4 separate regions of the Homo sapiens genome follow, and all the other regions are linked to region 1. Evidence: fine-mapped expression QTL. A gene starts in region 1. Each other region holds a variant in brackets. All regions are shown on one strand. Distances are between the middles of the regions.

Evidence for each region.
Region 2: its variant is fine-mapped to the expression of LYSMD2 in whole blood (INTERVAL, PIP above 0.99).
Region 3: its variant is fine-mapped to the expression of LYSMD2 in whole blood (INTERVAL, PIP above 0.99).
Region 4: its variant is fine-mapped to the expression of LYSMD2 in nasal epithelium (TOPMed, PIP 0.98).

Annotation. Positions count from the first base shown.
Region 1 is chr15:51,734,132-51,742,238 of GRCh38, reverse strand. It overlaps LYSMD2 (LysM domain containing 2), which reads left to right and starts at 4,584. Exons shown (of 3, transcript NM_153374.3): 1 at 4,584-4,889. The coding sequence starts at 4,617. RefSeq lists silencers at 4,266-4,705, 4,716-4,855, 4,926-5,135, 6,809-6,878 and enhancers at 7,679-7,738, 7,749-7,808.
Region 2 is chr15:52,003,949-52,012,055 of GRCh38, reverse strand. It overlaps MAPK6-DT (MAPK6 divergent transcript), which reads left to right. Exons shown (of 2, transcript NR_156732.1): 2 at 590-1,057. It also overlaps a transcript of MAPK6 not described here. Among named protein-coding and RNA genes, the nearest start is that of MAPK6-DT, 11 kb to the left of the region's middle. RefSeq lists silencers at 1-264, 730-1,024 and enhancers at 3,481-3,620, 5,233-5,362. The variant G/A (reference allele first, on the strand shown) is at 3,877.
Region 3 is chr15:51,595,693-51,603,799 of GRCh38, reverse strand. The region is part of intron 1 of DMXL2 (Dmx like 2); the gene reads left to right. Among named protein-coding and RNA genes, the nearest start is that of DMXL2, 23 kb to the left of the region's middle. RefSeq lists an enhancer at 1-248. The variant A/C (reference allele first, on the strand shown) is at 4,071.
Region 4 is chr15:51,856,354-51,864,460 of GRCh38, reverse strand. TMOD3 (tropomodulin 3) reads right to left here. Exons shown (of 10, transcript NM_014547.5): 2 at 1,451-1,650. The coding sequence starts at 1,576. It also overlaps the pseudogene LOC100422490. Among named protein-coding and RNA genes, the nearest start is that of TMOD3, 31 kb to the right of the region's middle. The variant C/T (reference allele first, on the strand shown) is at 4,390.

The DNA of each region.
Region 1 (8,107 bases):
GCGAAACCCCATCTCTACTAAAAATACAAAAATCAGCTGGGCATGGCGGTGCAGGCCTGTAATCTTGGTGCAGCTACTTGGGAGGCTGAGGCATGAAAATCGATTGAACCCAGGAAGTGGAGGTTGCAGTGAGTGGAGATTGTGCCATTGCACTCCAGCCAGGGCGACAGAGCGAGACTCCGTCTCAAAAAAAAAAAAATTTCTTTTTGGAGTGATGACAAACTTTCGGAAATAGATAGTGGTGATAGTTGCATAACATTGTGAATATATATATATTATTTATATATACATTATATATATATTTAATTATTATTTTTGTGAGATAGAGTCTCCTTCTGTTGCCCAGGCTGGAGTGCAGTGTTGCTATCTCGGGTCACTGTAACCTCCGCCTCCCAGGTTCAAGCGATTCTTCTGCCTCAGCCTCCCAAGTGGCTGGGATTACAGGCACCTGCCACCACACCAGGCTAATTTTTGTAGTTTTAGTAGAAATGGGGTTTCGCCATGTTGGCCAGGCTGGTCTTAAACTCCTGGCCTTAAGCGATCCACCTGCGTTGGCCTTCCAAAGTGCTGGAATAACAGGCGAGAACCACCACCCGGGCTGTGAATATATTTAATGTTACTGAATTGTAAGCTTAAAAATAGTTAAAATGGTGAATTTTATGTTATGTACATTTGTCACAATTCAAGAAATTAGTAATGTAATATAAATATGCAGAAAAGCATTGAATTATACACTTTAAATGGATGAATTATGTGATGTGTGAATTATATGATTTTGGTATCTTGTTTAAAAAACCCTTTGCTATCCCAAGGTTATAAAAATATTGTTGCAAAAGCATTAATGTTTGCTTTTCCCAATTATGTCTTTAATCAATCTATAATTGATTTTGATGTGTAGTATAAGACAGGGATCTAATTTCATCTTTTCTCACACAGAAAACTAACTGTTCCAGCAACATTTATTGAATATGTAACTTTACGTCTGCTATAGATTAAGTTATCCAATATATGTGAACCTGTTTGCTGGCTTACTTCCTTGTCCCTTTGTTATGTTTTCCTGCCTCAGTACCAGTCCCACATTGCTTTAGTTCTCATAGTTTTAAGTCTTCATGGCTATAAGGGTAAGCCTCCTTCCTAATTCTTCCTCAGGAATGCCTTGGCCCTTGTTAGTGCTTTATCTTTCATATGAATGTCAGCATAACTCTGTCATATCCTTTGAAGAATGCTATAGAGATTTTGTTTGCAATTTTAATGAATTTAACATTAGTTTGTAAAGAAAATGATATTTTCATTATTTTGCATTTCCCATTCACAAACATGGTATATCTCTGCTTTTATTTATATTTCTTTTATGTACTTCAAAAAAGTTTTATATTTTCCATACAATACACACTTTTCTTTCTTTCTTTTATTTTTTATCTTTTTATTTATTACCTTAAATTTTTTTTTCTGCTCCTACGCCACCAGGAACAATTTTCTCTTGTTAAATTTATTCCTAGGTATTTTTGGTGGTATGTGGAATGTCATCTTTTTCACACTTATATGATTGAGTGATGCAATTGATGTTTGTATATTGAGCTTGTATCTTTTAACTTTGGTGAACTCTCAATTGTTTGAACAGTTCCAATGTATTCATTATGTGTTGCCTATAAACATTTTAGTATTGCCTACTATCTGTAAATAACAGCTGATTTCTTTTCAATCTTCATTTCCTTTTCTTCTTTTTAAAATTGCCTTGGCAAAGACCTTCAAAACAATGTTAAATAGAGGCAGTAATAGGCTTCCTTTTCTTACCATTCCCTTCAAAGGAAATGCTTTTAATGTTTCATCTTTAATTGTGATGAACTTCTATGTTGTAGGTAGATACATATTAAAACAATTTTGAAGTTCTGGTTTAAGAAGGAAAACAATGAACATCTAATAACACCTCATGTAACTCAGTTCTTTTTTTTAAAAACAAAAAAACAAAAAAACAGGCCTGGCCAGGCGTGGTGGCTCAGGCCTGTAATCCCAGCACTTTGGAAGGCTGAGGCTGATGGATCACTTGAGGTCAGAAGTTTGAGAGAAGCCTGGCCAACATGATGAAACCCCACCTCTACTAAAAATACAAAAAATTAGGCGGGCATAGTGGCACATGCTGTAGTCCCAGCTACTCAGGAGGCTGAGGCAGGAAAACTGCTTGAACCTGGGAGGCGGAGCTTGCAGTGAACGGAGATCACACCACTGCACTCCAACCTAGGCAACAGAGCAAGACTCTATCTCAAAACAAACAAACAAACAAAGAAAACCCCAAAGCCAAACCAAAACAAAAAACCCCAGGGTCTCACTGTGTTGCTGAGGCTGGAGTGCAGTGGCATGATCTCTGCTTACTGCAGAGATCACCTACTGGGCTTAAGCAATCCTCCCACCTCACTTTCCCAAGTAGCTGGAACTACAGGAGTAGGCCACATGCTCGATTAAGTTTTGTATTTTTTGTAGAGATGGGTCTCACTATGTTGCCCAGGCTGGTCTTGAACTCCTGGGCTCAAGCTATCCTCCTTCCTTAGACTCCCAAAGTGCTGGAATGGGCCACTGCGCCTGGCTCAGTTCTTTAATCTTCAGATTAAAACTTCCAGCCATGCAGTAAACTTTTTCTTAGTGGAAAACATTATATGCTGTCTCATTCCTAGATTGTAAACTCTTTGAAGGAAGAGACTTCTTTCTTGAAACATTACCAGATCTTGTCTATATACTGAGACTCAAATTCTGCCTCTCTCTTGGGTCCTGAAATGGACACACTGGATACCACCCAAAAGTTTATGCATGGCAGACTTATGCTAAACAATCTAAATTAGCATTCAGGATCTTTTTACTACACCTCAATTCAACCACTTGTAATTATGTATTTATTTTTTTTTTTATTCCACTGAGCTAGGCACTGCTGGAGCTAAAAAGATGAGTAAGACCCAGTTATGCCTCCCAGGAGCACGTATTTGTTGGAGGAGATAAGACAAGCTCATGCATGTACATGCAAGTACAAACACAAAACACAGAGAGTTAAATACTAAACCAGAGGTATTAATACAAACCTCTTGGAGTTCAAAGAAGAAACAGTAACAGTTGGGCAGGTGGGAAAAAGGGACCATTGGGAAGAATTAGGAAAAATCTCATGGAGGATGTATCATTTGAGACAGACCTTAAAGATTTAAACAATGTAATAGAGGGTACTGGAAGAGTGTTACCATTGGAGGGAATAACATGCAAGGTATGAAAGTAGGAACAAGGAGGCCAGTTTCAGAGGCTCTGTTTGGCAGGAATATGTAGAGTATACAGAATGAGTTATAGATGGGGTATGGTCAGACCATGAATAATAAAAATAGAAATAATAGCTTGAATGCCAATGTAGGTTTTTAGTAATGCTGTTGTCCCCAGAGAGCCATTGTAGGAGTTTTGAGTGGGATGGTGTTGTGGAAGCTTGCTCCTCTCCCATCCTTTCTCTCCTGAGCAATATTAGCTTTGCCTCTGTCCAGCACAGCAACATACCAAAACTTCAGCCAACGAATCAAACCCCCAGGCTCCGGACCTTCCTACAAGGTACCTCTTCTTGGAAAGCTGTCCAAAATAACACAGAAACCAGGCACTAGATGCTAGTAAATGTGTACCCACTCTGTGTATAATACAGTGTGTTGAAAGGGTGTTCAAGAGTAGACGGTGTTCAAATGAAGAGTACAGATAAGAGGTCTTTGGTGGTTATAATATTAATAGCAATACGGGGCAGGGAGATGCGATTTCAGGGTGTCAAAGAATAAACTGACGAAGAGAAGATGAATGCAGACAGTAAATTCCAACTACTGAGCCTGGAGAATGAATTGTATGTGGCCAGCCTTTCGAGGCAGCCAGGACTTAAATTGGCACTAGTGTACAAAGTGTGAAACCCGAACAACTAGGGGGGTTATTTTGAGGCCACCCATTAGGCCTTAGAAGCACTATCCCTCCTAGTGCAATGTTGAAAGGACTGGACTCTGAGGCTGTTGAGATGGACCTGGAGAAGCTGTCTGTGTGTGTTTGATGATCTTAAGTTTTACTGTGACGTGGACTTTGAGGTCACTGGGGTGGGGGGAGGGAAGTACCCTTGGCATTGGCAGAGCTGGAAGGTCTGTGCAAGCTGGCTCCTGCTGGGGAATCAATAAAGGAGGCAGAGCAACGCTTTTTTTTTTTTTCGCCGTGGCCAGGGCAGGGTTCTGCCAGGGCTCTATCGCCAATGGAGCAGGGGTCCACCTGGGGCCTAGGACGCCTGCAGATAGCCCTCTCTTAGCCCCAACGGCCGCGGGCTTCAGCGCTCCCCGGCTCCCTCGCTCTGCAGGGTCTTCCCGGTACCGGCAGGCCGCGGCGGGAGCTGCTTTCGCTCTTAACCTTGCAGGTGCGTGTGCCGCGGGCGCCCGGGGCAGGCAGGACGCAGAGGAGGAGGCGCCCGCCATGCCCGGCCTGCGGCTCCCCGCCTCGGCTTCCCGTCCGCCGCCCCCGCGGAACGGCCTGCTGCAGCCCCTGTGAAGAGGAAGAGGCGGCGGCGGCGGCGGAGGAGGAGGAGGCGCCGCCCCCTTGGCAAGCTCCCCGACCCGGCGGCCTCGGCAGGACCCATGGCGGATTCCTCGCCCGCACTGTCCCTGCGGGAAGGCGGCCCCCGCGCGCCGCGGCCCTCGGCCCCCTCGCCGCCGCCGCGCTCGCGCTCCGGCTCCGAGTCCGAGGAGGCCGAGCTGTCGCTGAGCCTGGCCCGCACCAAGACCCGCTCGTACGGCAGCACCGCCAGCGTGCGGGCGCCGCTGGGCGCCGGCGTCATCGAGCGCCATGTGGAGCACCGGGTCCGCGCGGGCGACACGCTGCAGGGCATCGCGCTCAAGTACGGTGTCACGGTGAGCAGGGCGCGCCGCCGCGGCCCGGGCTGGCAGCTACCGCGCAGGAGGCGGTGCGGCTCGGGGTGCGGTGGGGGTGGGGGTGGGACTGCGGGTGGGGGTTTGGGGGATGGGGAGTCGCAGGGACGGCCGTGCGTCCCCGGGCGGCTCGGCTCCCAGGGCTCGCTCAGCGCGCGCTGCTGGCCACCGCAGTGGTCGCCAAAGCTGGTCCTGCAGCGGGAGGGGCGGACCGCCAGGGCTCCCTCCCTAGGTAGCTGCATCGAGTTCCCGGTGCCCCGCCCAGGCTCAGACTAGATCTGTCGCGTGAGGGAGGCCGAAGAGGACTAGGGCTTTGGCATCCCCGTGAACCACCTTCACCCAATTTGCAGGCCCCATCACACTACTCTATATTTACGCAAAGCCCAACTGAGGTGAATTTTGTTGTCTGTGAAAACAAGCTCCGTGATGAGTCAGGAATGGTGCAGTTGTTCCTACTGGGTGGTTCTGGTTCTATCGATTATGCTTCTTTATGTAGAAGTGAAATTACACCCTCTGGGCTCACTGGCAACCGCGAATGTGACACCTGTCGCTAAGCAGCAGCCAAGAACTGTGGTGAGCTGGAGGGCTGCGTTTATTACAAATTTATAAGTGTGTGTGTCTTGGGTGTATAGCATTACACCTCTGGGAAGAACATGGAAACCTGAGGGAACAAATTGTTTCATTAAAATTACTTATAATTAACTGTGAGCTATGTGATGGCCTTTTTACATTTGGGATCTGTATCAGTTTTCAGTGTTCTTTCCTGAAGCACCTTAGACAGCAATGGGAAGAAAGAGGATCTTATCTATATCTTTCCCTTAAAGTGAAACTCTTTCTGGCCCTTTACCGAATGAAGGAGCATCAGTATGAAGGAGAATGTATTTTGCATATTTAAGCCGGTATATGTTTACCTATCAGGTCCTTCTATCTTTGAAATATTTTGAAAGGGACCTTGCTGTGCAGTCATGTATTGACTCTATCATGCCATGGAGAGCCCCATTCTGCCCTCTTGGGAGTTCTATACATGTGAACATAGAGCTACAATTCTCTATGTGCCTTAATGGGGCCTGGTTTGAGTCAGAGGCAGAGGAAAGCGAAGTTGGGAAATACCAGTAGCTACCCTCTGCTGAATGCCTCCTGTGTGGCAGGCATTGCGTTTGTCTTGTTTCATCTTTATCTTATTTAACTTTCACAATAAGCCCAGGAGGTAGGTGTAATTAATCTTTTTACAGATGAGAAGATGGATGAGAGGTAAGGATATTTTCCAAGTATGATCATTCATTGAGACCAGCTTGAATTAACAGTGATAAAGCATTTGCTTTCCTCTAGATATTACTTTTGATATCCATCCTTATTTTTATCTTAGTCTTATCAGGAGCTCTCTCAGCATCCTGGCTACTGAAGGAGGACAGTCTTTTCTATCTGGTTTTCAGGCATCTTGCCTTACTAGGCTAGTGACAGCACCTAAAAATCTATGACATGCAGAAGAGTGTTATTTCCCATGCTGTCTTCCCGTGCAATCTCTCTGTGACCCACAGCCGTCTGTGGTTTCACTTGAGTTGATTATAGATAACTCTTATACATCTGTTTACTGCAGTTTTCCACCTTTGATCAAATGCTTTCTAATCCCTGTTATGTCTAATATAGATCCTATTACTCATAACCTCATTACCCCTTTTTAAAATTAAAGTGTAGATCAGATTTTTCGTTGCTTTTATAAAGACTTTTGATTTTAAGATATTAAACACAAGGATAATGAATCAGGAACTATAATTGATAGTGACACATAGTTCATTACAGGGTTTCCCAACCTCAGCACTGTTGATGTTATAGACCAGATAACTCTTTGTTGCACGGGGTTGTCCTGTGCAGTGTAGAATATTTAGCAGCATCTCTGGCCTCTACCCACTAGATGCCAGTAGCACTCTCCCACCCCTATTCAGGCATTGCCGGATGTTCTCTAGAAGGCAAATTTACCCCTGGTTGAGGACCACTGGTTTATTACATGTATTTCTCATTACTTTGGGCCCTGGCTTATAGTTGATAAAATTTTTAGAGACTCCTCCACTGGTAATATAGAATCAGTGAAAGTGATAATACTTACCATAACAGTGAAGTGATATTCTTGTTTTAATATCTTCAGATTTTTTTTTTTTTTGAGACAGGGTCTCACTCTGTTACCCAGGCTGGAGTGCAGTGGCACTAACATGGCTCACTGCAGCCTCAGCTGCCGCTGCTCAAGTGATCTTCCCACCTCGGCCTCCTGAGGAGTTGGGACTACAGGCTCAAGCCACATGCCCAGCTAATTTTTGTATTTTTTGTAGAAATGGGGTCTCATTATGTTGCCCAGGCTGGTCTGGAACTCCTGGGCTCAAGCAATCCACCCACCTCAGCCTCCCAAAGTGCTGGGCCTACAGGTGTGAGCCACTGCACTGGTCTAATATCTGCAGATATTAATTAGGTTTACTCATTGTGAGATTTTAAGGTGGAAGCTAAAAAGGCAGAAAAATATTTTTCTTCTGACTGAACAGAAAGAAGTTGAGCAAATTAGGTTTCTGTTGTTGACTGGCAAGACCATCTACAACATATTTAAATGATTGTTTTAAAAGGTCGAAAATGAGATATTGGAGGCTTAGAGACTCAAGGCAGTGCACCTAGAAATTAAGTCAGTTCAGCAAACAGTTGACCTTAACATACCATGTCTGTCAATCTTGCACAGATGAGCAGAAACTCTCAGGAAAGCCTGTCTCTCCATGGCAACTCCTCAGCCACCCAGCTGGGTGTCAGGCAGGACTTCAGTCCTTTGGTGGAAGACTGATTAAGAGCCAGTCGTAGTCTAGGTACAAGGAAGTTCCCAGAACAGAGACTCCGACAAGGGGGTGAAGATGGAGACCTGGTTGCCAGCCCTGGATTACAAGGGTAACAAGCTGGGAGCCATTTTCTGAAGTGGTGCTGAAGGGCTGGCAGCAGGGCATATCTCAGGATGTGAGAATAGATCCATGTTCCTCAAATTGGCCTGGGCAGGACAGGAATACTCTGGGGCAAACTAAAAATAAAGGATCCTAGCTGACATTGGATCTATGGGATTGGAATACCCAGAAAAGGAGTCTAGGAGTCTCTGTTTTGTTTGTTTGTTTGTTTTTGTTTTTGAGACAAAGGCTCACTTTGTCACCCTGGCTGGAGTGCAGTGGCCTGATCTT
Region 2 (8,107 bases), 270 kb before region 1:
CAGTGGACAGGACTTCCCTGGTGAAGTGAATGCTACATCACTGGAAGCATTCAATCAGAAAACAATGGCCACCTGTCAAGGAGGGTCTAAAAGGAACTGCAGAGGAGAGGAGGGGCCTACAGCCAGCTGATAACTTCCATGGTCTCCAACTTGAAGCTTCTGTGTGTCTGTTTATACTCTTAATTTAAAATGACTGCTCTCCTAGACACGGTTTATAGAAGAACACGTTGTAATTTGATTTGTAAATAAACAAAACAGCCTTCCACTGAAGAAATTCATTGCCAAGTACAGTTCATTCTCACAGTGGATTCTCATTATTTGTGGTACTTATGTTCTGTAAAGTGATCATGAACAGTAAATTAGTGAAAACTGAACCCTGCTCCTAGGGGAAATACAAGGCTAGGTTCCTGCAAACCTCTGGCACAACATTCTCATCAGCCAGTGAATATATAATCTTGTTTTATGTGTATTTCTGTTTCAAGACACCTTTTTAAATACTTATTGTTGATTCATTAGCACTGAACTCGCTGCCAAAAGCACTGTAACTCATGCCTGAATAAAGCTTATCTAACATGTATTTTCTCTGTAGGGCACTTCACAGCCTTCTGTGCTTAGGAACTCTATACAGCACTTCAGCAATAGATTTGGGGGCCACTTTAAACAGCAAAATCACCAACGGAAAGCAAAACATGTGATGGCTCGGCACAGTGGCATGTGCCTATAGTCCCAGCTACTCAGGAGGCTGAGACAGGAGGGTCACTTGAGCCCAGGAGTTTGAGTCCAGCCTGGTCAACATAGAGAGATCCTGTTTCTAAAAACAAAAAAATCATGGCACCAAATAGACCATGGAAAGGACACTCGTTTACAGTACGAGAGTTGAAACAAGAAGGCAGAATCTTGTCTTGTTTGGCCTCAGCTGGCAACGTTCCCGTAGGGTGACTCAAGTATCTCGTTACTGTGCATGTTCAAAAGTGACTACAAAGGTGCTATGACTACTTCGAGGTTACAAATAAGTTTCAGCAATAGGCAAATTTGCAAACAGAATCTGTGAATAATGAGGACTGACTATAGTTAAAGATTATGGAGAGAATGTTTTCAGTCAAAACCCATCAAACCTGTACATAAAGTTTGATGAGAGGCAGATCACACGAATGATTTTTGGAAATGCAAGACTACCACCTGCAAACAAAACTAGGATCCCACATTTAATTGGATGGGGCAACAAGAGTATCCCCTCCGCCAGGCGCGGTGGCTCACGCCCATAATCCCAGCACTTTGGGAGGCCAAGGTGAGTGGATCACTTGAGGTCAGGAGTTTGAGACCAGCCTAGCCAACATGGTAAAATCCCATCTCTACTAAAAATACAAAAATTAGCCTGGCCTGGTGATGTGTGCCTGTAGTCCCAGCTACTCAGGAGGCTGAGGCAGGAGAATCGCTTGAACCCAAGAGATGGAGGTTGTAGTGAGCCAAGATCGTGCCACTACACTCCAGCCTGGGCAACAGAGTGAAACTCTGTCTCAAAAAAAAAAAAAAAAAAAAAAGGCTGGGTGCAATGGCTCATGCCTGTAATCCCAGCACTTTGGAAGGCCGAGTTGGGTGGATCAGCTGAGGTCAGGCGTTCAAGACCAGCCTGACCAACATGGAGAAACCCTGTCTCTACTAAAAATACAAAAATTAGCTGGGTGTGGTGGCACCTGTAATCTCAGCTACTCGAGAGGCTGAGGCAGGAGAATCGCTTGAACCCAGGAGGCAGAGGTTGCAGTGAGCCAAGATCATGCCATTGCATTCCAGCCTGGGCAACAAAAACAAAACTCTGTCTCAAAAAAACAAAAAAACAACTTATCCTTCAGGAGAATGGTAATAGCAATCATTTATCAAGTTCCTACCAAGTAGCCCGTTTCAGGTAAACACTTTACAAACGTTCTATCATTTTCTCAGACTATGACAAATGGGATTTCATTGAAAAGCTGTAAGAAATTACTTAAGGCCAGGCACGGTGACTCACGCCTGTAATCCCAGCACTTTGGGAGGCTGAGGCAGGTGGATCACAAGGTCAGGAGTTTGAGACCAGCCTGGCCAAGATGGTGAAACTGTGTCTCTACTAAAAATATAAAAAGTAGCCGGGCATGGTGGCGGGCACCTGTAATTCCAGCTACTCAGGAGGCTAAAGCAGGAGAATCACTTGAACCCAGGAGGCAGTGGTTGCAGTGAGCCAAGATAGCACCACTGCACTCTAGCCTGGGCGACAGAGCAAGACTCTGTCTCAAAAAAAGAAAAAAAAAATTGCTTAAATATTTTAGACAAAACCTGGCTTTCCTTGTAATAAAATCAATTTCTGAGACAAAAACTATACATTTACTTTTTAAATAATGGTTATATAATTAAACATTTAAAAGTACTGGGAAATATCTATTGGAATAATTTTATAAAACCAAATAAATAATCCAAAGAGCCCCTCTAATTTTTCTGCTTTGGAAGTCAGAATTTTCTGGAAGCAAGGCAAATTTGTAGAAATGGTAGAATTAAACTAGTAATACAAAACTTACAGCCTCTCCCAACACACACATTTTAAGAGAAGCATAGAGAGAGTGACACTTTCTGGCTTCAGGGAAATTTAGTCCAAAGGTTTTCTTATTTGCATTCTGTCCTTCCTTCTATCTTGAGAGGCCCAATACCTTGAAGAGAACAGATACTCCTAATTTCTGGAGACAGTGTCCAACTTGAACCTCTTGAGACCACAAAGCCTTCTATAACTAGTCTCAGATTTTGAGAACAACCTGGGTCTCTGCCACATGACCAGAGTAAATAAAAGGAAAGAATAGACCGGATGTTTGTCAGCCCATGTGCAGGGAATGATAAATATTTTGAGTTGTGGAGACAAAGCAGCTTTCAACTCACAAGGTCATGCTCCTCCCCTTTGCACTTCAGTAGTCAAGCTATCCTGTCCTTTGAGGAAGAAGGTAATCACTTCCTCTAACTAATCCTGTACCCAACATTTGCTTTCACTGGTCATTCTGAGTGCTCCATTTATCAATTAGTATATCATATGGTAGGCTTAGTAGGTCTGCCTTCCACAATCCTGCCTCTCACCTCCCATTTACCACTTGATAATTACTACCACTGGAACTCCCTTCCCAGAAGATGTCATCATCCCCAGAAACTGATAACCACCTCTGGAGTCTTTATCTGCATTCATCATTGCCTCTGGCAATCCCCTAGGTCTGGTGTCCTGGAAGAAAAATGGCCAGGGGCTCAAGAGGCCTAAGATTCATCTGCCCATCCTGGCCTCACTCTAAACCTATGAGTGCCCATCCCATTCCCTCCCACAACCAGGGCATTACACAGGGCCCTGCGTGCAAAAGGACCCCATGCTTGGTTTAATGCTCTGCTATGACCATCTTGACATTCCTGATGATTTTATCTTTGAACTCGTGTTGTGTAGTGAAGTCAGATGTGGCAGTGGAGCACGCAGGTGAGCAGAGGAGATAGATGCAATAAGTATGTTCACTATTTCCTGCCACCCTGTTCATGTATAGTGTTCTCCATGACCCATGTGCACAGGATTCTGGTGAGCCCGCGGTGCATCAGAATTCAGCAAGACAAAGCAAATAAGTATTAATACAAGGTAAGCCTGTTTTGTCTACGGCTGAGTAAGTGGGGGTCCTGATAGTTCTGAGAAGTCATGTTTTCCACTGGAACCAGAACTTCAAACCGAAAGAAGGCAATGGCATTCTAAGACATAAAAGACCACGGTACCCTATCATATCTTTTCTTTCTTGTGTCACTTCCCTGTGTTAGCTGACTGCTTGTGCTGAGGACATTTCCTTTGCCTTTCAGTACTTTCTTACTCCTCAGTAAGTCAAAGGTGGAGTGTTA[G/A]TACAATGTGTGTGCATCAGGAAGTGAAATAAGGGCTGGGCACAGTGGCTCACGTCTGTAATCCCAGCACTTTGGGAGGCTGAGGCGGGTGGATCACCTGAGGTCAGGAGTTTGAGACCAGCTTGCCCAAAATGGTGAAACCCCGTCTCTACTGAAAATACAAAAATTAGCCGGGCGTGGTGGCAGGTGCCTGTAATCCCAGCTACTTTGGAGGCTGAGGCAGGAGAATCACTTAAACCTGGGAGGTGGAGGTTGCAGTGAGCCAAGATCACACCATTGCACTCCAGCCTGGGTGACGGAGTGGAACTCCGTCTCAAAAAAAAAAAAAAAAAGAGGTGAAATATCAGTTGAGGTAGTTTTGTGTAGTTTTTATACTATTCTGGTAATAACCAACTATATATATATGTAAGAGCTAAAAAATAGAAATTATGTCATTTTGGTGAGTCCACAAAGGAATTAATTTTTTTTTTTTTTTTGAGATAGAGCTCTAGCTCTATTGCCCAGGCTGGAGTACATTGGTGCAAACACAGCTCACTACAGCCTTGGCCTCCTGGGCTCAAGCAAATCCTCCTGCCTCAGGAATTAAATGATCTTATATTTGTATTTAAAACTGGCTTTGCACAGTATAAAAATGAATTATAACATTCATGCTAGTAATTTAAATTTTTCTTTTTTCTTACGTAGAATAACATTAAATCACATATTTAAAACACTGTAACAAGTCAAGAGAGAGAGAGCAGGAGGAAAAAAAGTTGTCTTCTTAACTAGCTTAGCAGCATTTTTATTTTTCTGCCTTTTGAACCAAAGGGCCCCAGAAATTATGTAGCCAGTCTTGCTAGAACCCCACCCCCCAGAAGATAGCCCTGAAGAAGGTGGGTCAGGGACAGACTCCCCACCTGCTCCCACTCCCCTCCCTGCCAGAGCTGGGACAGGAGAAGTGAGAATATCTCTGCCCTTGGGGGTAAGTGTCCAAGGCTGCCTCAAAGCCCAGCCGCCCACACTTGGGAGCAGCACTTCCTATAATAAACACACAGGCTTCATTACACAGGGAGGTAGGAAGTGGGGTAGGAAGGAAGACCTTGTTCCTTCTGGGGCACATTTTCCCATAGAAACAATGTCGTAGGTCACAGTTCTATAGTCTCAAAGTCAAGCTGCATATGGGCTAAATGGCCTTCTAAGAGTTGGCCTGAGAACAGAACCAGTATTTCTAACATTGATTCTCTGGGGAAAATACATTTTCAGTTTCAAACAACCAAGTTAGAAATCAACTTTTGGGAACATAACTCAGTCACAAGCAGGGACTGTCTGTACCTTCCTAGCTTAGAAGTGCTGAGACCACAGAGAAGGATGGTATTTGTTAGACCCAGGTAAACAACTAAATGTTAATGACGCTATTAATAAGTCATAATTTCACTTTATGCTCTGGTAGATATGAAGGGTCCAGTTCTTCAGATTTGCTGCTTGAAGAACTTGATTGCAGGTTTACCAGGGTTGATTGGCCCCTGGCAACCAACACATACCAACCAAGTTCAAGAGATTGTACCCTAGACCAGCTGCCAATCCACTAAGCACACAAGAATAGCTGTGCTGAGTTGTACTCATGATTCATCCCGGCTGATATTCTCACACAATGATTGTGAACTTCTGTGTTTTAGTCATTGTAAACTCTAGTGTTGAGCACAGTGTCTGAATGTAGTGGTTTCTCAAAAAAATGTTAGTTGAAAACGAAAGGTGAATAGGGGTTTCCTTCAAATTTCCCCTTATTTAATTCTACTTTTAAAGCAACTTTCTTCTTAGGAAATCTATTTGGTCATTTTAGTTACCTCTTTCTATGACCTGGTATATCTATTAAATACTAGACTCTTTTTTACGGTTTCCAGGGAGAATTAAATGCATGATTCCAGGTATAACTTCATTACCATTTTGTCAAATGTAAGACAAAATAATGCTTTCAGTTCTGTTTTCCACGTTCTTAGCAAACAGGCCTAGCATATTGTTATATGACTTTAGGAAACAGTCAACAATAACTCATGGGTCTCTTTCTTAGAATAAAGCACAGCTCCCAACTCATCTTCTTTTAAGTGACTTTAGACTAACAATACTAAATGCATTATTCCAATTCAGTACAGAATGAAACTCATTTGCCATATTTTTGTCCACTCACATAAGCTGTGTGAAGCTTATCTTTTCAATTTAGATCCATCTGCTTGGTAGTTACTACTCTGGAGAGCTTAAGGCCATTTCCTACATGGGCCTGCTTCCACACAGTCTATCACAGTTTTAAGTAAGACAAGTCCCCCAGCAGTAATCCTTGGGGGCTCCACTGTGAAACCAGAAGAATCTCTCTGATGTCTTGGCACCAACGGTAGTCAGCAGACCTAGGTGTAAGCCCCAGTTCTGCCACTTAGTTGTTTGATTCCAGGCAAGTCATTTAATCTCAACTTTAAAATGGTATAAATAGCACCTACCTCCCCTCCCTCGAAGGGTGGGGTCTGTCCAAGGAATACATGAGATAATGTGTGTGGAAGCACCCCTAAAATGCTAACCTACTCTAAATAAGGGGTGCTGTTAGTATCTTCAGCCAGAAGCTTGCCTGTTTAAACTATCATTCACCTAAGTTAAGCCAGATCTCTCTCTCTCTTTTTTTTTTTTGAGATGGAATGTCACTCTTGTTGCCCAGGCTGGAGTGCAGTGGTGCGATCTTGGCTCACTGCAACCTCCACCTCCCAAGTTCAAGCAATTCTCCTGCCTCAGCCTCCTGAGTAGCTGGGATTACAGGCACCCGCCACCATGCCTGGCTAAGTTTTGTACTTTTTTAGTAGCGACAGGGTTTTGCCATGTTGGTCAGGATAGTCTTGAACTCCTGACCTCAGGTGATCTGCCCTCCTCAGCCTCCCAAAGTGCTGGGATTACAGGCATGAGCCACCGCACCTGGCCCAGATCTCTCTTCATTCATTCAAGTCATTCAACAGATAGCCTTTGAGTGCCTATTTTATCCAAGATAGAACTTTCTCCCACCTTTTGGGGTAACTTATTTGGGGGGTTTTGTTTGTTCTTCTTTGTTTCCTCAGTGTTTAATGTGTAAATTGGTAAAGATATTTTTTAAAGTGTAGCGTTCACATGCTTATTTACCCCTCAAAGAAATGTCGTCCAACAGTGAAACATGAGGCATGCTCAAGCATGTTGCTGCAAAGGAAGAAGGTCAAACACAGTCTCTGCCTGCATCTCTCCACAGAAAGCAGGAGTCCCTTCCACGCTCAGCCTCAGAGCGACAGAAGGGAAAATCCAGAGTGGGGTTGCTATGGTTTGAACGTGTTCCCCAAAAAGCGTATGTTGGCAACTTAATCCCCAATGCAGCAGTGTTGGGAGGTGGGGCCTAATTGGAGGTGTTTAGGTCATGGGGGCTCCACTCTCATGAATTGAATCATGCTGATTATAATAAAGCTGGAAGCTTCAAGTTCAATGTCTTGCCCTCTGGAGATCGTTCTTGCCCTCTTGAGATCACTCTTGCCCTTCTGCCTTCTACCATGAGATGATGCAGCAAGAAGGACCTCATTAGATACTGTCCCCTCTTAGACTTCCCAGCCTCCACAACTGTGAGCCAAATAAATTTTTTTCCTTTATAAATTATTCAATCTCAGGTATTCTGTTATAAAAAGCACAAAACAGACTAAGACATGGGTGTAGCTGAGAGGGCCAGTGAGAAAGGGAAACAGGGGCAACTATATAACCCCTCAGATACCAACAACCGCTATAATAATAAATGGATCTACTTACATGAAAGCAGCTTATAGCAATCTCCTTTAATTAGCCCGTGGTCCTTTCTAACAAAGAAAAATCCCTTCCACTTTTAGAAGCTTCTGATGAAGGCTTATGGATACTGCTTCCAAAGGAAAGATAAAAGGCAAAGCATTCCTAGGGAAAAGGAGGAAAGACGTATTTGTAAAATGATTTAGCTGTACAGCAGGTTATGAAGGAGTGAAAAGGAAAAGATTAAAATGGTTCTTTCCCTCCTCCCTCTGTGACTCAGATTAATCCTAAAAATAATCTTCATCCCAGTATGAGACGCTTAGTAAAGACTCACATCTCCACAGACCAATTTTCATGATGGTCGTGGGGAGGAAAGGAACAAAAGGAAAAGGGAGATAGGGAACAGGAGCTACTAAAGGTAGTCTAGAAGAGACTTCACCTACTCAGAAGAGGTGAGGTGAAATTAAAGGCCAGTGTAAAT
Region 3 (8,107 bases), 140 kb after region 1:
GCCTCCCGGGTTCGCGCCATTCTCCTGCCTCAGCCTCGTGACTAGCTGGGACTACTGGTGCCTGCCACCACGCCCGGCTAATTTTTTTTTGTTTTTTAGTAGAGATGGGGTTTCGCCATGTTAGCTAGTATGGTGTCGATCTCCTGACCTCGTGATCTGCCTGCCTGGGCCTCCCAAAGTGCTGGGATTACAGGCGTGAGTCACTGCGCCCGGCCGTATTTTGTCCTTTTCTACTTTCTCTCAGGATTATGTAGAATAGGTGTTATTTCTTTTTTAAATGTTAGTAGAATTTATAAGTGAAACAATCTGGGCCTGGAGTTTTCTTTTTCAGAAGGGTTTTAACTATACGTTTAATTTATTTAATAGTTAAAGGACTATCCTAGTAATATGTTTCAGCTTGGGTGTGTTTTTACTGTTTTTGGTTTTAGAGGAATTGGTCTTTTTCATCTGTTTCATTTTTATAGGTTTGCGTATAGAGTTGTTTGTGGCATTTCGTTATTATACTTTTAATGTGTGCAGGGTTAGTACTGATACCCCTCTTTTATTCTTGATATTGGTAATTTGTGTCTTTTCTCTTTGCCTATCTTGCTGAAGTTTTTATGTTATATTGCTCTTTTGATTTCATTCATATTCACTCTTGGTTTTCTGTTAATATCATTGATATCTGCTTTTTTATTGTTTCCTGCCTTCTATGTGATTTGGAATTGTTTTACTCTTCTTTTTCTAATTGATTAAGATGGAAACCTATGTTATTGATTTGGGGAGTGCCCACACTTCTTTAAACATTTTTCTACTAGCCATTTTAACATCTTTGTCAGTTGATTTCAACATCTGTGTCTTGTTGTCTCTTCTCTTGCAAGTTGAGATTTTCTTAGTTCTTTATATGAGTAATTTTGGATTATGCCTGGACATTTAAAAATATTACGTTATGCGACTCTGGGCCTTTTGTAAATCCTATGGAGAATGTTGATATTTTTGTTTTAGCAGGAATTAGAGCTGGCTGGGTTGAGATGGAAAGGTTTGACCAACCTTCTGTATATTGTAGTTTCCATGTAAGTTCCATTTTCAAAGCCTTTGCAGTGCTAGCTGAATATACTCTATCCTGTGATGTGCCACTGAGTGGCCAGTATGGAACCTGGGCAGTGGTCTCAAGGTCTTTGCTCTGCTGTTTAAGCTTAAGATTATGCTTGCACAGCCTGGGGATGAGCCCGGGAGTTTACAAGCAAGTTTGTTGAGTTGCCTTTCCAGACTCCTCTTTCTGTGACTTTCCTGGTACTTTCTGGTTTTCTGGCTGGAAAACCAGTCACTTCCTGTGACTGTACCTGTCTATATTCAGTGCCAAAGTACCTGTAGAGAAAGAAAAAGAGCAACGTGGATCCACTCTACTCTCTTGGGGTCATGGCACCTCAGAGTAGAACTGTGGAATTATTTGGGGGCTGTGATATCAGAAAATAGAGAAAAGGGAAAAAAAAGATAAAGGGAGAATTTTTCCTCCCTTTCTGTGAACATTAAGAGTCTCCTTTCCCATTCCTTGAGCCAAAAGTAAATGGCTTCTCCTGGAGCTCTCTGTTTTTGCTGCTTGGTTTAGGCCTGACAGTCCAGGCCTAACTTAGTTCAGTAAAATGGGAAACTCTGCTAGAATAGTGAACTTCAAACTCCATTCTTCTTACCGCATTTATCTGCTATAATTCACCTTATTAAGAGTCCTCAAATAGCTGTTCTGTGCTTTCTGTTTATGTTTTATGGCTGCATCAAGTGGGAGAGACATCACTGTGGTTACTTTATTTTACTTGGAACTGGAGCTATGATGTCATTTTTCATACCATCAAAAAGGACCTAGCAACAAATCTAATGATATATGTGTAAAACTCCTATAAGCAAAATTAATAAACTTTATTGAGAGACTTAAAGGAGATAAATACTATGTTCATGGACTGGAAGATTCACTACTGTAAAAATATCAACCATTTCCAAGCTTATTTATGTATCTTTGATGCATTCCCAATCAAAATTTTAAGAGAATTTTGTGGAATTTGATAGAATGATGCTAAAATTTTATGGAGCTAGATAGTGCCAAGAATAGATAAGGCAATATTGAAGAGCAATAAAGAAGACTTCTACCAGCTCAAGACTTATAAAAGTTGTAGTCATTAAGATAGTGAGATGGCAGTCTGAGGACAAATACACCAAAATCAGCACCAGAAAGAGACCCACACATTTGTTGATGTTTGATTTATATCACAATTGGCATGGTAGAGTAACAGGATGGTTGATCTTTTCAATCAGTGGTGCTGGGACATCTTGTTATCTACATAGGAAAGAAGGAAGACTTGGTCCCTATCTCACCCCATACATAAAAATTAACTCCAAGTAGATTAGAGATGTGCAAGACAGAACAATACATATTTTAGAAGGGAGAATTCAGAGGAATACATGTAGAGGAAAATGTATTGCTAACCTTGAGGTTGCAAAAGATTTCTTAAAACATCAAATTTTTTTTTTTTTTTTTGAGATGGAGTCTTGCTTTGTCACCCAGGCTGGAATGCAGTGGTGCAATCTCGGCTCACTGCAAGCTCCGCCTCCCAGGTTCACGCCATTCTCCTGCCTCAGCCTCCCGAGTAGCTGGGACTACAGGCGCCTGCCACCACGCCCGGCTAATTTTTTGTATTTTTAGTAGAGATGGGGTTTCACCACGTTAGCCAGGGTGGTCTCAATATCCTGACCTTGTGATCCGCCCGCCTCGGTCTCCCAAAGTGCTGGGATTACAGGCATAAGCCACCATGCCTGGCCAAATTGTTTTATTTTCCTCTAATTTGATCTTTCTTGAGAGTGTCTGTAAACTCTCTGGAGAGTGGCTGTTAACTGTATGTCTGTCCTGATGGGGCTCCAGGGATTATTGTGGAGCTGGGATATGACCATATGAGATGGTCATGGATGTTTACAGTCTGTCTTTCATGAGATAGTTTTTTATCTTGGTAGATGTCCTAATGCTTAAATGTCAGACCTATGGCCAGGTGTTCTTCTCACAGGAAACTTATACTGGCAGATACCCTTGTGGTTCTTGTCCTATCCGTGTCCAGTTTATTTGACCAAGACAGCCACGCTCTAGGAGAACCCTGACCAAGCGGAGAATTAGGTTCAGGTGTGTTGGTCAGGTGAGCTACAGAGGAGATGGTAAAACAAAACGCATGAAATAACAAGCAGTTTTAATTTCAGATTTTAGAGAGAAGAGAAAGTAGCACACCTTGCAAGGTCAACAGGAAGAGGGGTGCCACCTAGGACACGCAAGTGCAACCAGTGGATGGGATGAAAGAGAAAGGACCTAGGGAACTAAAGCCTTTACTGGGGTCCAGGGTGTTCTTAACCAAGCAAGTTTCCTATGAGGAGTTCTAATTTGTAGGTTGGAGCAAGCAGGCATGAGTCATGCTGTGACTAAGAGGTGGTCACTGAGGCATATCTGTGCAGGGTTTGGGGTCATTAGGGTGAGTCAGGTAGATTCTACCTAGCTCTCCTAAAAGGAGGTGATAACCAGGAGGTGGTTGTAAAAGGCAGGTATCTTGATTGACCACATTGAGGACCTGGGAGGAAATGGAGAACTAAAAACTGTGTCAAGGGTGACTGAGCCCTGATTCTTGAATGAGAAAGTCAGACTTATACTTGAAACGAATGCCAAGGCAACCTAAAATTATAGGAATTCACTACACAAATAAACCACAATTGCAGATAGAAATATTTTGGATATTGTGAGCCAGGTTTCTCATTATTGAAGAAGAGAGTTACAAGTGTAGAAAGTGGGAAGGCAGCCGGGTGCAATGGGTCACACCTGTAATCCCAGCACTTTGGGAGGCTGAGGCGGGCAGATCACGAGGTCAGGAGATTGAGACCATCCTGGCTAACACAGTGAAACCCTGTCTCTACTAAAAATACAAAAAATTAGCTGGGCATGTTGGCACGTGCCTGTAATCCCAGCTACTTGGGAGGCTGAGGCAGAAGAATCGCTTGAACGTGGGAGGTGAAGGTTGCAGTGAGCCAAGATGGCACCACTGCACTCCAGCCTGGGTGACAAAGCG[A/C]GACTCCATCTCAAAAAAAGAGAAAGTGGGAAGGCCAGAATGAACCTTGTCAATATAATTGCATTAGAGGCATTAGTGTGACCTCATAGATGTGTATGTGTCTATACACATATGAATATATTACATGTTTATATGAATAATGTGTGTATGTATACATGCATATATTTGTGTATATTTAAACAGACATAGAGCAGTGATGTATAGGTATAGAGATATGTAGATATGATACGGATGTTTGTATTGGTGTGTCTTTGATCCTAAGCCCTTTCAGTGGACAGTTGAAAATAGATATGTGTGTGTCTGTCTATAGATACATACATAAACATACACACACATTTGTTTTCCTAACTGTCAGCTGAGAGGCCTAGAAGCAGTGATACCCCTGTAGCAGTGAACACAACTGGCATCTAGATCTTGGTTTCTAAATACCTTTGTCCACTAAAAGGAACCACTATTTCTTGGAGGAATAGCTGATTTTAGGCTGGAGCATGAAAAATGAGATGAATCTGGAATTTCTTGTGCCAGAAAGTAAGGAATTGCTCAAAGAATGGTCATAGCATGTCATAATGACACTGGAGCTAGCTTAAAGGTCTTCCACTGGCCAAATCTGGGACAATCTGGGTATGAAAATAAATGATAGTGGATTATAACCCTTTGAATAAGATAAAAATCCATGAATTTTTACTGATATAAATAAGTACACAAATAAGGAACGCTCTTCTTTACAGAGGGAAACTGACAAATGATGCAACGATGGAATTAGAAAATTGCCATTTGGCAGCCATCATAGTAGTACTAAAACTAATGGATGAAAGTTTAGTAAGGAACAGGATATTTACATAATCTCAAAATATATTCCCACAGTATACTTATTAATTATAAAGGAAAAACAACATAGAGGAGAAACCTGGAAGATACTATCTGCATTTGCTGTCCAAAGTAAACATCATCAGAGATGGGGCAAATTAACAGAAGTGCCACCTGATAAAATGCAATAAGAACATTGCTACATTTCTGTGGTATTCCTGCCCCAAACCCATAACCTAAATCTAATTGAGAGGAAACATCAGAGAAACCTGCATTTTAAGATATTCTATAAAATAACTGATCTGTGTTCTTCAAAAGTGTTAATGCCATGAAAGACAAAGAAAGAGTGAAGAATTATTCCAGATTAAAGGAGTCTAAAAAGACATAGCTAAACACTTAATCTGGAATTTTCTTTTACTATAAAGGACACTATTGCAGCAGTTCAAGAAATCTAAGCTCTATAGATAATAGTATTTTATCAGTATCCATTGCCCGATCTTGATAATTGTACTGTGGTCATATAAGACATTTTTAAGGGGAAACATTAAAGTATTAAGGAATAAAAAGGAATCATGCCTGCAACTTTCAAATGGTCCAGAAAAAAATATATGTATGTATACAGAGACAAGGGTAAAGCAGATGTAAAATATTAACATTTGGGGAATGTGGTATACAGGAACTTTTTATAACTTTGTATAACTGTATAAATTTACAACTTTTTGTAAGCCTGAAATTATGTCAAAATAAAAAACTAAAAGTAAAGGAAGTACTGTATCATAAAAGGAGATTAATGATAGATTGGACTACTTTAAAATTAGGAACTTCCTCAAAGATAGCATTAAAAGTGAAATGCAAGTTGTGGAGTTGGAGAAAAGAATTGCAACATCTATATTTGACAAAGGACTAGTATCCAGAATATAACAATATCTACAAATAAGAAAATGATAACAATAACGGATGAAATATTTGAACAGGTGCGTCACAAGAGAAAATCTAAATGACCGGTAAATATTTGAAAAGGAGCCATAGCTCATTAATAATCACAAAAAGACAGATTGAAATCAGGAGATTCTATTATATACCTAACAGATTTGCACAAAATTACTTACTCTCACATGTATCTGGTGATGGCAAGGATGTCCAGTGATGGGAATTCTCATGCACTGCTAGTGACAGTATAAATTGGTACAACTATTTTGGAAAACAATTTAGCATTAATGCCAAAATTTAAGATACGCCTAACCTGTGATCCATCAGTTCCTCTTTTGTGTGTATATTCTAGAGAAATGCATGCACGTATGCGAGATTTCCCTACAAGAATGTTCATAGCAGCATTGTATGTAATAGGCAAAATGTCCATCAACATTAGAGTGGATAAATTGTGGTACATACCAGGGAATATTAATAAGAAATGAAAGTGAGTGAATCACAGTTACATACACCAGGATAAACTTCTGACCTAATGTTCAGAGAAAGAGACACAAAAGCATACAGTATGATTCCATTTACATAAAGTTCAGAGGGGAGGCAAAACTAAACCATATTGTTTAGGCATGCATACAGAGGTTGAAAAACTACAAAGAAAAATAAGGGGGTGATTTCCCAAAAAGGGTAGTGGCTACTTTTGCTTGAGACGGAGAAGTGTAATTTGGAAGGGACAGATAATCTTTTGAGTTGCTGGAAATACTCTTCTCTTCTTGGGTGGTGGTTACACATGTACTCACTTTAATTTATTCTTTGTGGAGGATGTTTTAGGTACACCTCTGAATTTAAAACATTGTCTTAGTGGGTTTTGTGAGGTTTTATGAGGGATTATGTAGGTGCATGTTTGTCTGCTTTTTTATTATTATTATTATACTTTAAGTTTTAGGGTACATGTGCACAACGTGCAGGTTAGTTACATATGTATACATGTGCCATGTTGGTGTGCTGCACCCATCAACTTGTCATTTAACATTAGGTATATCTCCTAATGCTATCCCACCCCCCTCCTCCCACCTCACAACAGGCCCCGGTGTGTGATGTTCCCCTTCCTGTGTCCATGTGTTCTTATTGTTCAGTTCCCACCTATGAGTGAGAACATGCGGTGTTTGGTTTTTTGTCTTTGCGATAGTTAGCTGAGAATGATGGTTTCCAGCTTCATCCATGTTCCTACAAAGGACATGAACTCATCATTTTTTATGGCTGCATAGCATTCCATGGTGTATATGTGCCACATTTTCTTAATCCAGTCTATCATTGTTGGACATTTGGGTTGGTTCCAAGTCTTTGCTATTGTGAACAGTGCCGCAGTAAACATATGTGTGCATGTGTCTTTATAGCAGCATGATTTATAATCCTTTGGGTATATACCCAGTAATGGGATTGCTGGGTCAAATGGTATTTCTAGTTCAAGATCCCTGAGGAATTGCCACACTGACTTCCACAATGGTCGAACTAGTTTACAGTCCCACCAGCAGTGTAAAAGTGTTCCTATTTCTCCACATCCTCTCCAGCACCTGTTGTTTCCTGACTTTTTAATGATCGCCATTCTAACTGGTGTGAGATGGTATCTCATTGTGGTTTTGATCTGCATTTCTCTGATGACCAGTGATGATGAGCATTTTTTCATGTGTCTTTTGGCTGCATAAATGTCTTCTTTTGAGAAGTGTCTGTTCATATCCTTCGCCCACTTTTTGATGGGGCTGTTTGTTTTTTTCTTGTAGATTTGTTTGAGTTCATTGTAGATTCTGGATATTAGCCCTTTGTCAGATGAGTAGTTTGCGAAAATTTTCTCCCATTCTGTAGGTTGCCTGTTCACTCTGATGGTAGTTTCTTTTGCTGTGCAGAAGCTCTTTAGTTTAATTAGATCCCTTTTGTCAATTTTGGCTTTTGTTGCCACTGCTTTTGGTGTTTTAGACATGAAGTCCTTGCCCATGCCTATGTCCTGAATGTTATTGCCTAGGTTTTCTTCTAGGGTTTTTATGGTTTTAGGTCTAACATTTAAGTCTTTAATCCATCTTGAATTAATTTTTGTATAAGGTGTAAGGAAGGGATCCAGTTTCAGCTTTCTACCTATGGCTAGCCAGTTTTCCCAGCACCATTTATTAAATAAGAAATCCTTTCCCCGTTTCTTGCTTTTGTCAGGTTTGTCAAAGATCAGATGGTTGTAGATATGTGGCATTATTTCTGAGGGCTCTGTTCTGTTCCATTGATCTATATCTCTGTTTTGGTACCAGTACCATACTGTT
Region 4 (8,107 bases), 120 kb before region 1:
ACATCCTAGGAACATTTTAAAACAGGAGGAGTGTGCTACTGGTCAGGGATGTTGTTAAACATCCCTCCAAGGCACAGAACGGCCCCCCTACAACAAATTATCCAACCTCAAAAGTAAATACTGTCAAGATTGAGGAACCTGGCCTAGGGACTAGATAAAGTCTTATGCTTTTTCCAGTTTTTTTTTTTTTTTTTTTGAGATAAGTCTTGCTCTGTCACCCAAGCTGGAGTACAGTGGTGCAATTTCGGCTCACTGCAACTTCCACCTCTCTGGCTCAAGCAATTCTCATACCTCCACTTCCCAAGTAGCCTGGGGCTACATGCGTGCACCACCATGCCCAGCTAATTTTTGTATATTTAGTAGAGACGGGGTTCACTATGTTGGCCAGGCTGGTCTCGAACTCCTGGCCTCAAGTGATCCACCCGCCTCGGCCTCCCAAAGTGCTGCGATTATAGGCGTGAGCACCCAGCCACTTTTTCCAGTTCTAAAACATTTGATTCAAATAGGTCTAATAGATTGAACTGCCTACAGAAGATACTGTTGTGATGTGATAAAAACAGCATCATTATCCTGAGTAATCCCCCTCCAATCAGATGTACTGGGAACTTTTCCTTATAATAGTAATTATGGTTAAGGGATTTGATCTATGGTATAGATACATCATCCAGTAACAACAACGTTATAAAATGAACTCCATCTCAGTCCTTAGAGGATACTTAAAATCAACGTCTTGGCATAAAGAAATGTGGTAAAGAAAAGAAGCCTAGCAAACAACCATTACCTTCACGACCTTCAGGCTCTTCCTTCACTGCCCGTCCTCCAACATATCAGGGAATAACAATTCAAGGGTCATGGGTGTCTATCTTAGCCTTGTGTAATTTATAAGACAAACAACATCCACCTTGCAAGTTAAAGCTTACATACATATATTCATGTCTGCTCCACAGTGGACTGCTGTATTGCCAAGAAGTTACTTAGATCTATTCTACCAATGTCTGGAAATGTAATCAATTCGGTCAGCCTCTTTCAGAAAGGGAACAATTAGATTTAGGGTCATGAAGAATCTTTTAGAGGCATTCTACACTGGAGCCACCTGGCATAGAAGCTCTGAAGAGACAGAGGTTGGCGTGTATCAAAAAGGTAACCATCTGCTGCATTGTACTAAAAATATCCCTTCCTGCACAGAGGAGAAAAATTTCTTAGAGGAGGAAAAAATTTCAGGAGATGTTTGAAAACAAGGATACTGAAGTAGTTTAGGACAGTCATGTCATTAAACATATGGAGGCAGAAGTGGGGAACTGGAGAGAGAGCCAAAAGCAACTTGATTTGGATAAAGTGGAGGAAAGGGTGGAAGGTGCCAGAGAAAAGTCATGGAAAAGCTCAAAGGCAGCTACTGAGTTTCAAAGAATTCGAAAAGTTATTTCATTTCTCTTCATCACCTAGCACCTACCTCGGGGTCAAGATCATCCAAAACAGTTTCCAGTTGTTTCAGTTCTGTTTCTGACAGATTCCCAAGGAGCTCATCTTCATCAAGGTCTTTGTACTTTTCTAAGTCCTTACGGAATGGCAGTGCCATGATGTGCAGGGCAGCAAGTCACTTAATTTTTGCTGTTCAGTACAGTCAGAAGTGATCTCTACTTTTTCTTAAAGCTATGGAGAGAAGAAACAAATACATTTTAAATAGTAAGTCATCTCCACCTACTTAGATCTAATTCTCAGGTTAAGTGAAATGTAATTTCCATGTGTCATATATTCTTTGATCACATATCACATACTATTCTTGTTTATGAATCATTCAATGCCTTTTGCCTTGTGTTGAGAAAAAAAAAATCAACCAGGAAAAAAGAGGGAAAAGATAAAACAAAATTCAAATCCATTAAGGCAGCCACTTGATAGAATTTAGAATTTCTAATAATTAAATTTTAGGGGGAAAGAAATTATGTGTCAAAATAAAAGATTTTCCATCAATAGCTTTCAAATTATTTTACCAGAGTACTTTGCTTCAGCACAATATGTTTAAGGCACATTTGTTTTACTATATATTGTTTAGGAGAACAATATGACTCAGTATTAATATGGGGGGATAGCAATACATTCCACATGACAGGAGTGGTCTCTTGCCACTAGGAAAAATATTCTTTTGAAAAGATGCATTTGAAAATATTTTTCTGAGGTGTTTTTAAAGGAAAAAAATACAGCATTCTGAAGATGATTGAGTAAAATACTCAAAATCATGCTGGGATATGTCATCCACTGACTGACAAGGTTGGTGGGAGGGTCTGACTGTGGGAAGGGACCATCATCATTTCCTTCCTGTGCGGTCTCTCCCAGGCAGCCATGAGGTTAATCAACAAGCAGGTTAATAGTAGCTCTAGAGACACAGAAGTTGGCATATATCAAAGAGCTAATCATCTGCTGATTCGGCAGGACTGTTCTATAGGAAAGGCGAAACCAAGGATTTCTGCATATTCCAGCCATATGTATGAACTGTCTGTCTCATAAAATATACCTAGTACTGGGCCAGACGCAGTGACTCACATCTGTAATCCCAGAACGTTGGGAGTCCGAGGCAGGTGAATCGCTTGAGCTCAGGAGTTTAAGAGCAGCCTGGGCAACATGGTGAAAAATACAAAACATCAGCCAGGTGTGGTGGTATACACCTGCGGTCCCAGCTACTCAGGAGGCTGAGATGGGAGGATGGCTTCAGCCCAGGAGGCAGAGGTTGCAGTGAGCCAAGATCGTGCCTTTACACTCTAGCCTGGGTGACATAGCAAGACCTTGTCTCAAAAAAAAAAAAAAAAAAGTACCTAGTACCTATGGAAATAAATACACTTTAGACTTAGTGATTTGGTTACGTTTTTCTTGACTGCAAAATGCTCAGTACTTCAGTTTGATACATTTCCTTTACTACCCCTTCCCTCAAGTTTTCTCAGCTTAATATTTTAGTATGTTTTTTCTGCAAACCAGTAACATTTTAAGGCTCCTTTGATGTGTTTCCATCTCCCATGAATGGAAATGTTCAAACTGTTTAGAAAGGCAGGCTCACCACTGGAGTCTGACAGCAATTTGACTAGCAACCACCTTGGGTCCAACAACAAGCAAATGGGGGAGCTTCCTGCACGTGTTCGCGGTTGAGAAGCTCCCATGGGGTTGTAGAGTTCGGACCTCATGGCAGAGATAATTCAGGAACACAAAGAAGATCAGCTCCCTGAATTGGAACAGCTAGAGCACATTGGACTGTTCAGTCATGCAGAGATTAACGCTATCATTAAGAAGGCTTCTGATCTACAGTACAGAATCCAGGAAAGAGCCCTTTTCAAGGACGACTTTATCAATTATGTTCAACATGAAATTAATCTTTTCGAACAGATCCAGAGAAGAACACGCATTGGATATTCATTTAAGAAGGATGAGATTGAGAATTCTATTGTACACCAGGTACAAGGTGTTTTCCGAAGTGCCTCAGCAAAGAGGAAAGACGATGTTCAACTTTGGCTCTCCTATGTAGGTTTTTGTTTGTTTTTTGAGATGGAGTCTTGCTCTGTCGCCTAGGCTGGAGTGCAGTGGCATGACCTCGGCTCACTGCAACCTCTGCCTCCTGGGTTCAAGCAATTCTCCTGTCTCAGCCTCCTGAGTGGCTGGGACCACAGGCGCCTGCCACCAGGCCCGGCTAATTTTTGTATTTTTAGTAGAGACGGGGTTTCACCTTGTTGGTCAGGCTGGTCTCCAACTCCTGACCTCAGGTGATCCACCCGCCTCGGCCTCCCAAAGTGCTGGGACTACAGGCATGAGCCACCGTGCCTGGCCTCCTATGTAGTTTTTTGTAAGAAATGGGCTACTAAAACTCAACTTAGCAAGGTATTCTCTGCCATGTTGGCCATTCATTCCAACAAGCCAGCTTTGTGGATTATGGCAGCCAAATGGGAAATGGAAGACTGCTTGTCTTCAGAAAGTGCAAGGCAACTATTTCTTTGGGCACTGCACTTTCATCCAGAGGGCCCAAAACTTTATCAAGACTACTTTAGGATGGAGCTGATGCATGCTGAAAAACTGAGGAAGGAAAAGCAAGAATTTCAAAAAGCCAACATGGATGTGGAGAATCCTGATTATTCTGAAGAAATCCTTAAGGGCAAATTGGCACGGATCATCTATGAAAATTCTGTAAGCATAATTTAAGGTGCAGAATTTCATGTGTCACTGCTTTCAACTGCACAGCGATTTGACTTTGCCAAAGGTCTACAAATAGAAATTTATGATGACCCTCAGGCTCTACACACAGATGATCTTCTCACTTGGGATTATGCGGCAAGGTGACAATTAGAGATCGAGTCACAAACGGGAGAAGAGCAGCGTACAGCCTACAACGAAATAAGACAAAGCAGAGGAGGG[C/T]CAGAAGGAGGACAGATGCTGTGCCGTATATGAAGAGGCAGTGAAGACTCTGCCAAGGGAGGCCATGTGGAAGTGTTATATCACCTTTTGCTTGGAAAGATTTACTAAGAAGACAAATAGTGGGTTCCTCAGAGGGAAGAGGTTGGAAAGAACCATGACTGCATTCAGAAGGGCACATGAACTCAAGCTTCTGCCAGAATTCCAATACAAGCAGTTGACTTGAGTTGTTGCTGTGCCATAACTTCCTGAGGAAAGCTCTAGAGGTGGCAGTAGCTGGGACTGAACTGTTTATAGAGACTCTGGGACAATGTGGCAGATGAAGGTGCATGTGCTGATTGACTCAAAGAGCCCTGACATAGCCATGCTTTTTGAGGAAGACTCTGTGCACCTGAAACTCCAGGTTTGTCTACCATTGTGGACTTCTTGGCAGAGTGGAGTGAAGGTGCCAAAAGCCAAGAAGACACCGAGGCAATCTTTAAGAAAGCTCTCTTAGCTGTCACAGGTGCCAACTCAGTAACCCTGAAGGATAAGTACCTGGATTGGGCTTATCAACATGGTGGCTACAAAAAAGCCAGAGCTGTGTATAAAAGTTTACAGAACAGCCATCCATTTTCAGTTGACTTTTTCAGGAAAATGATTCAGTTTGAAAACAGCAAGAATCCTGCAAGATGGTGAACATTAAGAGAATATTATGAGAGGGCTTTGAGAGAGTTTGGATCTGTAGATTCTGATCTTTGGGTGGATTGTATCAAGGAACCATTGAACCACCCCCTTGGTAGACCTGAAAACTGCAGACAGATCTACTGGCGAGCAATGAAAATGTTGCAGGGAGAGTCAGCAGAGGCATCTGTAGCTAAACATGCTATGTATCAGACTGGCCGTTTGTGAAGAGGAAGAATACAGCCATCTTTGTGAAACAGTATTGCAAGCCCTGTGGGCAAATATGTATTATGAGTCCATTTTTGTAATTTGTTCATCGATGGCAGACAAGATGGCTGTCTGATTTCAAGACACACTTTAATTTTATATTAACTTGTTAATTTTTTAAAAAATTTAAAAAAAGATTTTATGATTGAGACAGGGTCTTGTCCTGGCTGGTCTTGAACTCCTGGATTCAAGTGACCTTCCTGCCTCAGACTCCCGAGTAGCTGGGATTATAGGCGCAGGACACCATGCTCAGCTTGATGCACGAATCTCTAATTCCAGGAAAGAGAACTGCTGATTTAATGTTGAGATGCTGAGGCCAGACCTACCATAAGTCCTAAATGTTTTCCAGAATACATGGAAAGCATACGACTGGGTTTTACTTATTATCCCAGTTCAAGTATGAGTATCTCTAATCTAGCTAGGAGCCAGTTAAAATGAAGGAGAAAGTACAGTTTTGTTGGTTTATTCTCATTGTAAAAGATACATGGTATGCATTTGTTCTGGAAAATATAGAGGAAATAGAATTGTGTGTTGAAAAAAGTAAAAACATCCTGTAATCACAGGGGAAAAAAAACACAAGCAAATGAACAGAATTTGCTTATGCAGATACTACATTGCAGGCAACTTGTGTAACTGCCCAAAACAGGTCTGGTGTATACCTGTTTTATTGGCACCTCTTCTGGTTTACTGGTTATCTTGAATTTTTTTTTTTTTTTTAGCAAATTATTATCATTGTCATTACTGTTTGTTAAGCGTCCATTTTGTACCTCCAACTTTAAGATAGCAAGTTTGGCCAGGCACAGTGGCTCATGCCTGTAATCCCAACACTTTGGGAGGCTGAGGTAGGAGGATCACTTGAGCCCAGGAGTTTGAAACTAGCCTGGGCAACACAGTGAGACCTCATCTCTATACAAACTTTAAAAAAATAGCTGGGCATGGCAGCACACACCTGTAGTCCTAGCTACTTGGGAGGGTGAGGTAGAAGGATCGCTTGAGCCCAGAAGTTTGAGGCTGCAGTGAGCTACGGTCGTGTCACTGCACTCCAGCCTGGGCAACAAGGTGAGATCCTGTCTCTAAAAATAAATAAATAAATAAGCAAGCTTACAAGTATATTTACAGTATATTTTCTCCATTAAAAATAATACAGTCTTCAGATAAGATTCAATGGAAGATATCATCACTTTCCAATATATTAGCCATAAAATGTAATTCTGAAGAAGGTAAAAATTTAAGGGACAAAAATTAAAAATAACACCACTTAAAAAAATTTTCCCTTTATAAAAATATCAATGATGTGATATTTCAGACAGATAAGGGTAAGAAACTGATAAAAGTATATAAATATGTACCAAGAATAATTTAATTCATGCTTTTTTTTTAATGTTTGGATAATTACTGTTTTAAAAGTTTTTAATGTGCTTTAATACATTTTTGAAATTTTCAGTACATAAGCCAATTTTCTCAATGAATATTTTAAAATATACATAGATATAAGTTTAATTATTTTATGCATCCCTTACTTTACTTTCAAGAATGTCCTAGTATGGGTCATAAATTCAATGATCATTCTAACAGGGCACTCTAATAGGCAATACGATAGGAATGAGATATTAGGGGCAAAGGCAGGCAATGCTATATGCCACCCAGGTTCTGTAAAGTTGGAACATGACATTCTACATTCCACAGAGAGACTAAATAGCTTACTCCAATACATTGCTTCTCCTAATCCCAAAGTAAAATCTACTACACAAAGCTTGTTTACAGTATTGCTTAAAGAATAAAATGAAAAACCATGAACACCCTGCCCAGCATAAAAGAGAAAACATTACTAATACCCTCATATTCACTTCTCTAGTTGCATCTCCTCTTCCAAAAGTAGCCACTCTACCAGATTTTGAATTAATCATTCTCTTGCTTTCCTTCAGTTTTGCCTTATTTGTACATACCCTCAACAGTTTTAGATCTGCCCCTTTTCTTGCATGTTACGTAAACAGACTCGCAGAGTATGCACCCTTCTGTGACTTGCTTTTTTCATTTAATGTTGTTCATTGTTTTGAGTTGATGCTTAGAGCTATACTACTTTCTTTTCATTTCTATATACTATTCTATCGTATAAATGAACATTTAAGTTGCTTATAGTCTCTCCCCTCTATTTCTCTGCTATAAACAATCTTGTTACCTATTTCCTGGTACACATGCGTGAGAGAGTTTCTCTGACCTTCAAATCTAGGAATGGAATTGCTGGGAAAAGGGTATGCTTATACTGAACTTGATTAGGTAATCCCAAACTATTTTCAAAGTGATTGCTTGAATTAACATTCCCAGCAGATTCGGCACATGACAATTCACATTGCTCCTCATCCTTGCTCATTGTTGGTATTATCAGAGTATTTATTTTTGGCCATTCTGGTGGTATTTCACTGTGGTTTTAATTTGCATTTTGCTGAATTATGATGAGCTTGAGCATCTTTTCATATGTTCATTGGCAAATGTGTTCCTTATTGTGTGAAGAATCTTTTGCCCGTTAAAAAAAAAAAATGCCCTTAATATATTCTTTGTTGGTTATATGTAACAAATCTCTTCCATTTTTTTTTCAAGTCTTATCAAGTTTATCATGGTATATCCTAGGGGAAAACGTTTCTAAGTATTTTTCATTTTTAAAAAAGTTTACTTCTTTAGCTAGGTTTTCCTTTCCAAAGCAATGAAAAATGAATTTCCTTCAGATTCAGATTATAGAATTTTGCCATGAGGCAAGAACTTCTGGGTAATACACCAAAGTTCAAAGTTTCAA